2 linked regions of the Homo sapiens genome follow. Changing the gene in region 1 together with any one later gene gives a genetic interaction. Each region holds a gene or a part of one and is shown in the gene's direction. Other genes may lie near its edges.

Region 1 (3,825 bases):
TGGGATGTCTGGAAGAAAACTGTTGAAGTTTCAGTTGCTTGCAGTCTGGAGAAGCACTAGCCTACTCTATTTATTTTATTTTATTTATTTATTTTTTGAGACGAAGTCTTGCTCTGTCGCCCAGGCTGGAGTGCAGTGGCGCCATCTCGGCTCACTGCAAGCTCCACCTCCCGGGTTCATGCCATTCTCCTGCCTCAGCCTCCCGAGTAGCTGGGACTACAGGCGCCCGCCACCATGTCCGGCTAATTTTTTTGTATTTTTAGTAGAGACGGGGTTTCACCATGTTGGCCAGGATGGTCTCGATCTCCTGACCTTGTGATCCGCCCGCCTCGGCCTCCCAAAGTGCTGGGATTACAGGCTTGAGCCACCACACCCGGCCTACTCTAACTTTAGTCAAAGGTATCATCACATATTGGCCCATCTTGCTGACATAGTAAGTGATCTGCTTAATTAAACCTGTTGATAAAAACCGGATATTTGTTGACTCTGACCTAGCAGGAAATGGAAGAGAAGGGCTTATACAGGAAATACTTAATAATAGCTCAACTAGGGAAGGTATAAACTAGCAACTTCTTGGAAATTGGCCTGTTTTGCTTTCGAATGATAGTTCACTTCAGGCTAAGAAGTCTTATTTCTATCTCCAGCAGTAGCATGTAAGAGGAAGCTTGAGAGAGGACAGTAGGGTTGCAGTAGGGGGAATTCTTTTTTTTGAGACAGGGTCTCAGTCCATTGCCCGGTGTGATCTCGGTTCAAGCGATTCTCCTGTCTCAGCCTCCTGAGTAGCTGGGATTACAGGCGCCTGCTGCCACCATGCCCGGCTAATTTTTCTATTTTTAGTAGAGATGGGGTTTTGCCGTGTTGACCAGGCTGGCCTTGAACTCCTGACCTCAGATAATCCACCTGCGTCGGCCTCCTAAAGTGTTAGGATTATAGGCGTGAGCCACTGCACCTGGCCAAGTCCCCTGTTTTTCTATTACTTTGTGTTTAGCCCAAGGAACTCATAGTTTGGCAACATGAAGTACCCTGAATAATGTACAATGCTAAGTTATGTTTCGTGTGTGTGTGTATGTGTGTGTGTGTGTTCTGTTTTTTAGAGATATAGTCTCATTCTGTTGACCAGGCTAGAGTGCAGTGGCATGATCATAACTCACTGCAGCTTCGAACTCCTGGCTCATAGCCTCAAGTGATCCGCCCAAGCTTCCTGAGTAGCTGGGACTACAATCTCCCATCACCACACCTGGGTGGTTGTTTTGTTTCTTTTTAGTTAGTCTCGCACTGTGCCCAGGCTGGAGTGCAAATGATGCAGTCACAGCTCACCGCAGCCTCGACCTCCAGGGTTCGCTCAAGTGATCTTTCCACCTCGCCTCCCAAGTAGCTGGGACTACCGGCACAAACCACCACACCTGGCTAATTTTTCTTTCTTTTTTGAGATGGAGTCTTGCCCTGTTGCCCAGGCTGGAGTGCGGTGGTGCCGTGATCTCGGCTCACTGCAACCTCTGCCTCCTAGGTTCAAGCAATTCTCCTGCCTCAGCCTCCTAAGTAGCTGGGATTACAGGCGTGCGCCACCATGCCTGGCTAATTTTTTGTATCTTTAGTAGAGATGGGGTTTCACCATGTTGACCAGGCTGATCTCGAACTCCTGACCTCATGATCCACCCGCCTTGGCCTCCCAAAGTGCTGGGTTTACAGGCGTGAGCCACCGCGCCCAGCCTAGTTTTTTTTTGTAGAGACAGGGTCTTACTGTGTGGCCCAGGATGGTCTGTAACTCCTGGGCTCAAGCAATCCTCCTTCCTCGGCTTCCCAAAGTATTCGAATTACAGGTATGAGCCACTGGCCCAGCCCCTAGGTAACGTTTCTAAGTAAAGAAAAACATCTATGTTCTGTGGTCAGGGGCAGGGTAGTCTAGTAGAAAAGACTTAGGAATGAACCAAGTAGATCAGTCTTTAAAGTCATTAGACTTGGCAGATGTTAGTTAATGTCTCCCAAATTATTATTATTATTATTATTATTTATTATTTTTTTTTTGAGACGGAGTCTTGCTCAGTCGCCCAGGCTGGAGTGCAGTGGCGCGATCTCGGCTCACTGCAAGCTCCGCCTCCTGGGTTCACGCCATTCTCCTGCCTCAGCCTCCCGAGTAGCTGGGACTACAGGCGCCCACCACCACGCCCAGCTAATTTTTTTGTATTTTTAGTAGAGACAGGGTTTCCCCGTGTTAGCTAGGATGGTCTCAATCTCCTGACCTCATGATCCCCCCATCTCAGCCTCCCAAAGTGCTGGGATTACAGGCGTGAGCCACTGTGCCCGGCCCAGATTTTTTTATTGTAGCTAACTAATGCTCATTGAATTATGGGATGAGATAAGGCAGGGGAAGGAGGGCATTGTGACAAAGGGCCCATAGAAGATTTATGCCATTACACTAGGCTCTCACTTAACGTCTTTGGTAGGTTCTTGGAAACTTTGACTTTATGTATTATTATTATTATTATTACTTTGTTTTTTTTTTGAGACAGAGTCTCCGTCTGTCTCCCAGGCTATAATGCAGTAGTGCTGTCTCAGCTCACTGCAACCTCTGCCTCCCAGGTTCAAGCAGTTCTCTACCTCAGCCTCCGGAGTAGCTGGGATTCCAGGCATCTGCCACCACAGCTGGCTAATTTTTGTATTTTTGGTAGAGACAGGGTTTCACCATCTTGGCCAGGGTGGTCTTGAACTCCTGACCTCATGATCCGCCCACCTCCGCCTCCCAAAGTGCTGGGATTACAGGCGTGAGCCACTGTACCTGGCACATTATTATTTATTTTTTTAAGATGAAGTCTCACCCAGGCACGGTGGCTCACGCCTGTAGTCCTAGCACTTTGAGAGGCCGAGGCGGGCGGATCACGAGGTCAGGAGATCAAGACCATCCTGGCTAACATGGTGAAACCCCGTCTCTACTAAAAACGCAAAAATTAGCTGGGCGTGGTGGCATGTGCCTGTAGTCCCAGCTACTTGGGAGGCTGAGGCAGGAGAATGGTGTGAACCCAGGAGGCGGAGCTTGCAGTGAGCTGAGATCGCGCCACTGCACTCCAGCCTGGGAGACAGAGCGAGACTCCGTCTCAAAAAAAAAAGAAAAAAAAAGTCTTACTCTGTTGCCCAGGCTGGAGTGCCATGGCTCTATCTCAGCTCACTGCAACCTCCGCCTCCTGTGCTAAAGCAGTTCTCCTGTCTCAGCCTCCCGAGTAGCTGGGAGTACAGGTGCGCCCCACCACGTCCGTCTTATTTTTTTATGTTTTTGAGACAGAGTTTCACTCTTGCTGCCCAAGCTGGAGTGCAATGGCACGATTACAGCTTACCACAACCTCTGCCTCCCGGGTTCAAGTGATTCTCCTGCCTCAGCCTCCCAAGTAGCTGGGATTACAGGCATGTGCCACCCCACCTGGCTAATTTTGTATTATTAGTAGAGAGGGTTTCTCCATGTTGGTCAGACTGTTCTTGAACTCCCGACCTCAGGTGATTTGCCTCGGCCTCCCAAAGTGCTGGGATTACAGGTGTGAGCCACTGTACCAGGCTGTATTTTTTTTTTTTCTTTTTTTGGAGAGGAGTTTTCCTTTGTCACCAAGGCTGGAGTGCAGTGGTGCAATCTCAGCTCACTGCAACCTCTGCCTCCTGGGTTCAAGCAGTTCTTCTGCCTCACCCTCCTGAGTAGCTGGGACCACAGGCACACGCCATCATGCCTCCCAATCTCAAGCAGTCCTTCTGCCTTACCCTCCTGAGTAGCTGGGACTACAGGTGTGTGCCACCACGTCCAGCTAATTAAAAAAAAACAATTTTTTGTCAGTTGGGGAGTAG
Region 2 (2,954 bases), on another chromosome or scaffold:
ATAGAGACAGATCCATCAGTGCTTGATTTTCTTTTGAACTGGAGCATTATATCTGTATTATGTACTTAGAATTTTATATTCAGTAGTTTAGTTTGATTTAATAGCCAACTAATATGGCAAATCTGGGTGATTAAAAAAAGCAAAAATTAAAGCACATATTGAATGACTTTATAGGCTATAAAAGTAAAACTCATCTTTTGTTGAATTTTTAGAGGAAGAAGAGAAAAATAGAAAGTGTTCTCCTGAAGAAATTCAGAGAAAAAGACAAGAAGCACTGGTTCGGAGAATGGCTAAAGCACGAGCCTCATCTGTAAATGCAGCTCCCACTTCATTTCTTTAATGAAATATTAGTTGGAAGACTTCACGAAGACTGCTGATAACTATCTGTGATTGATAGGAAATTTTTTTTCTTGATTTCTCTGTGAGAAATGTAATGCTGACTTTTATAAAGCCTGGACTTCTACTTTATTTAATAAATCAATGTTTGCAATGGTAAATGAAACATTTCCTTGGACATGTATTTGAAAGTCATTAAATACAAAAGTTTTGGAAATTCAGGAAAGTTAGCAATTATGTACGGATATTATACAGAGGAAAGTAGTTATATTTTTAAATGCTATTATTGCAGAGGATCATCAAAAAAGAGGTAATCTACGTTATTTCCTATTCTAATGTCTTTTCCTAATAAAAAACTTCAACTTTCTAAGTTAGTAGAGACTGTTTTTGTAGTTTTACTTTCATTAACTGTTGCTTAAGGTTTTTATACACTTCCAGATTTTAATTAATACTTTCATATTTCTAGGAACATGGTTGATATGAAATAAAGGACTTTTTATTTGTAAGGAAATTATGTTCAGTTCTTAGAAGTGGATTTGAATTTTAATAATTCTAAAATGTGACACATTTTGGAAACTTTCCACCATATTTAGGAAAACTTTGATTTTAGAAGTCTAACATAGAGGAAAAGAAGTAGTGGATTGTCTACAAAAGTAATGTGGCATCATTAACATTTAGAACTGGCAGAAACTTCATATGTCATCTGGTCCAGCTTCCTTATTGTATCGGTGAGAAAAAGTAATACTGTTTTCAAAGTCATAGGCAAGTTAATGCTGTGCTACAATTAGAATGATTTATTTGGACACCTAAACAATTATACTATTTGTTTCAAAGTATCAGTACATAAAATAACTTGAGGGAGTATTATTTTCTAGTATAAAACAAAAGATGTAATTAAAAGCACAATAAGGACTGTTTGATAATAATGCTCATTGTTCCTTATTTTGCTTTAAAGAATTAGTCTTTCCAGGATATAAAAATGAGAATCTTTTTTCTTTTCAGTTTTTCTGTAACTGTAATTTTCCCCTCAATTAATTTACTTAGTTGACTCATCTTTTCTTCTCTATTACTGTTTTGTTTTTTTCTTTTTTTGCCATTTTGCCTATTTGGAATTTGCTAAACCAGTAATAGAAGTCCAACTAGAGGGCGTAAGGCAGGGAGGATGCTTTATTCCTCTTAAATGGTTTTAGGAGATCTAGAGAAAGTTAGAGATATGAAACACCTGTCATGGTGTGGCATTTATCACTATCAAGTGTCTCAAAGCTGTGATAATATGGTAGTTACTGCCCTATAGCTATACAGATACTCCTCAACTTACCGTGTAGTTACATCCCAATAAACCCATCATGAGTTGAAAATACCTTAAGTTAAAAATGCATTTACTACACTTAATCTACCAGACAACATAGCTTAGCTTAGCCTACCTTAAACATGCTCAAATCACTTATATTAGCCTAGAGTTGGGCACATCATCTGGCAATACGGCACACTGTAGAGTATCAGTTGAGCTGATGCCCAGCATCGTGAGAATGTTGTACCACATATCTCTAGCCTGGGAAAGAATCAAACTTTAAAGTATGGTTTCTATTGGACGCATATCACTTTTGCATCACGTTAGAGTTGAAAAATTGTAAGTCAACCATTTTAAGTTGGAGACTGTACATCAAAAATGGTATTTTCATATCTACAGTGGAGTACTGGAGTTTAGCTAACCTATATTATTTTTCCAGGAATATATAATAACCTAGATAAATGCAAGTAGTTTCTATGTACAAAAATAAAGAGCTGAGAATCTTTTACTAAAAGTGGCTTCACTGTGTTCTGACTATGCTTTGGATATCTCTGTCCTTGCTTAAGCTCCTCCCTGCTTACTGCTTGCTTTTTTAAGAGTACTTTTAGCCTATTCTGTTCATTCATTTAGACTCAGCCTAATAAGTCTGTTTGAACCTCGTACCTAACCATCTTCACTGGAATTGATTGCTTCTCTCTGATCATAATGGTACTAATTATTGTGTCTTTCATTGAGCAATACTATAATGCCTTTATGTGTTGTTTAGTTGTATAAATCTTATTTTATAATTTGTCATTTTGTGTCTCTGGTAATTCTGCCAAATTCTTATACAGCTCATAGTATTATTTACGTAATAGTTTTCTCTAAGTGACTCCCTTTTTTTAAAAAAAAAAAAAAAAAAAAAACTTTTATAGCACTTCTGGGTGGTGGCAGGTGTAATGGCCCTGTACATCTGAACCTCACATGACTGGTTTTTAGGGTCACTGCTCCTGTTCATACCACTCTCCTTTCCTATCCTGACTCTTCCTTTAGCCCTTGTTGGAAACATTAGGGGGTGAATGGCCCATAAATGAGCATGCAGAGGGCTGACTATATAGTTTGCCTGGCTTTTCTCTTTCCTAGTCTATAGGGAATCTGGGGAAGGGACAACTGGTAGCCTGGCAATTTCCCCCTAAAGTTCCGCTGCTGTTTCTGCATCTCAGACTGATGCTAATAATGCCATTATTTCCAAAAAGAGCCTGTTGAAAGCGGAGCTTATCTCTCATTCATCTTTTTCTGTTATAGACAGATGACTCGGACCCCAGGAACATTGGGGTTGCTTACTGCA

What was found.
Region 2: changes in LSM12 (region 1) and ETAA1 are lethal when combined (synthetic lethality), as found in Homo sapiens cells (one large-scale study listed by BioGRID).

The regions. Positions count from the first base shown.
Region 1 is NC_000017.11:44,056,437-44,060,261, reverse strand, and holds part of LSM12 (protein LSM12), read left to right. Parts: intron 1-3,825. UniProt on the Homo sapiens protein: Nicotinic acid adenine dinucleotide phosphate (NAADP) binding protein. Confers NAADP sensitivity to the two pore channel complex (TPCs) by acting as TPC accessory protein necessary for NAADP-evoked Ca(2+) release.
Region 2 is NC_000002.12:67,409,699-67,412,652, forward strand, and holds the end of ETAA1 (ewing's tumor-associated antigen 1), read left to right. Parts: intron 1-212; coding exon 213-340; 3' UTR 341-2,391; downstream 2,392-2,954. UniProt on the Homo sapiens protein: Replication stress response protein that accumulates at DNA damage sites and promotes replication fork progression and integrity.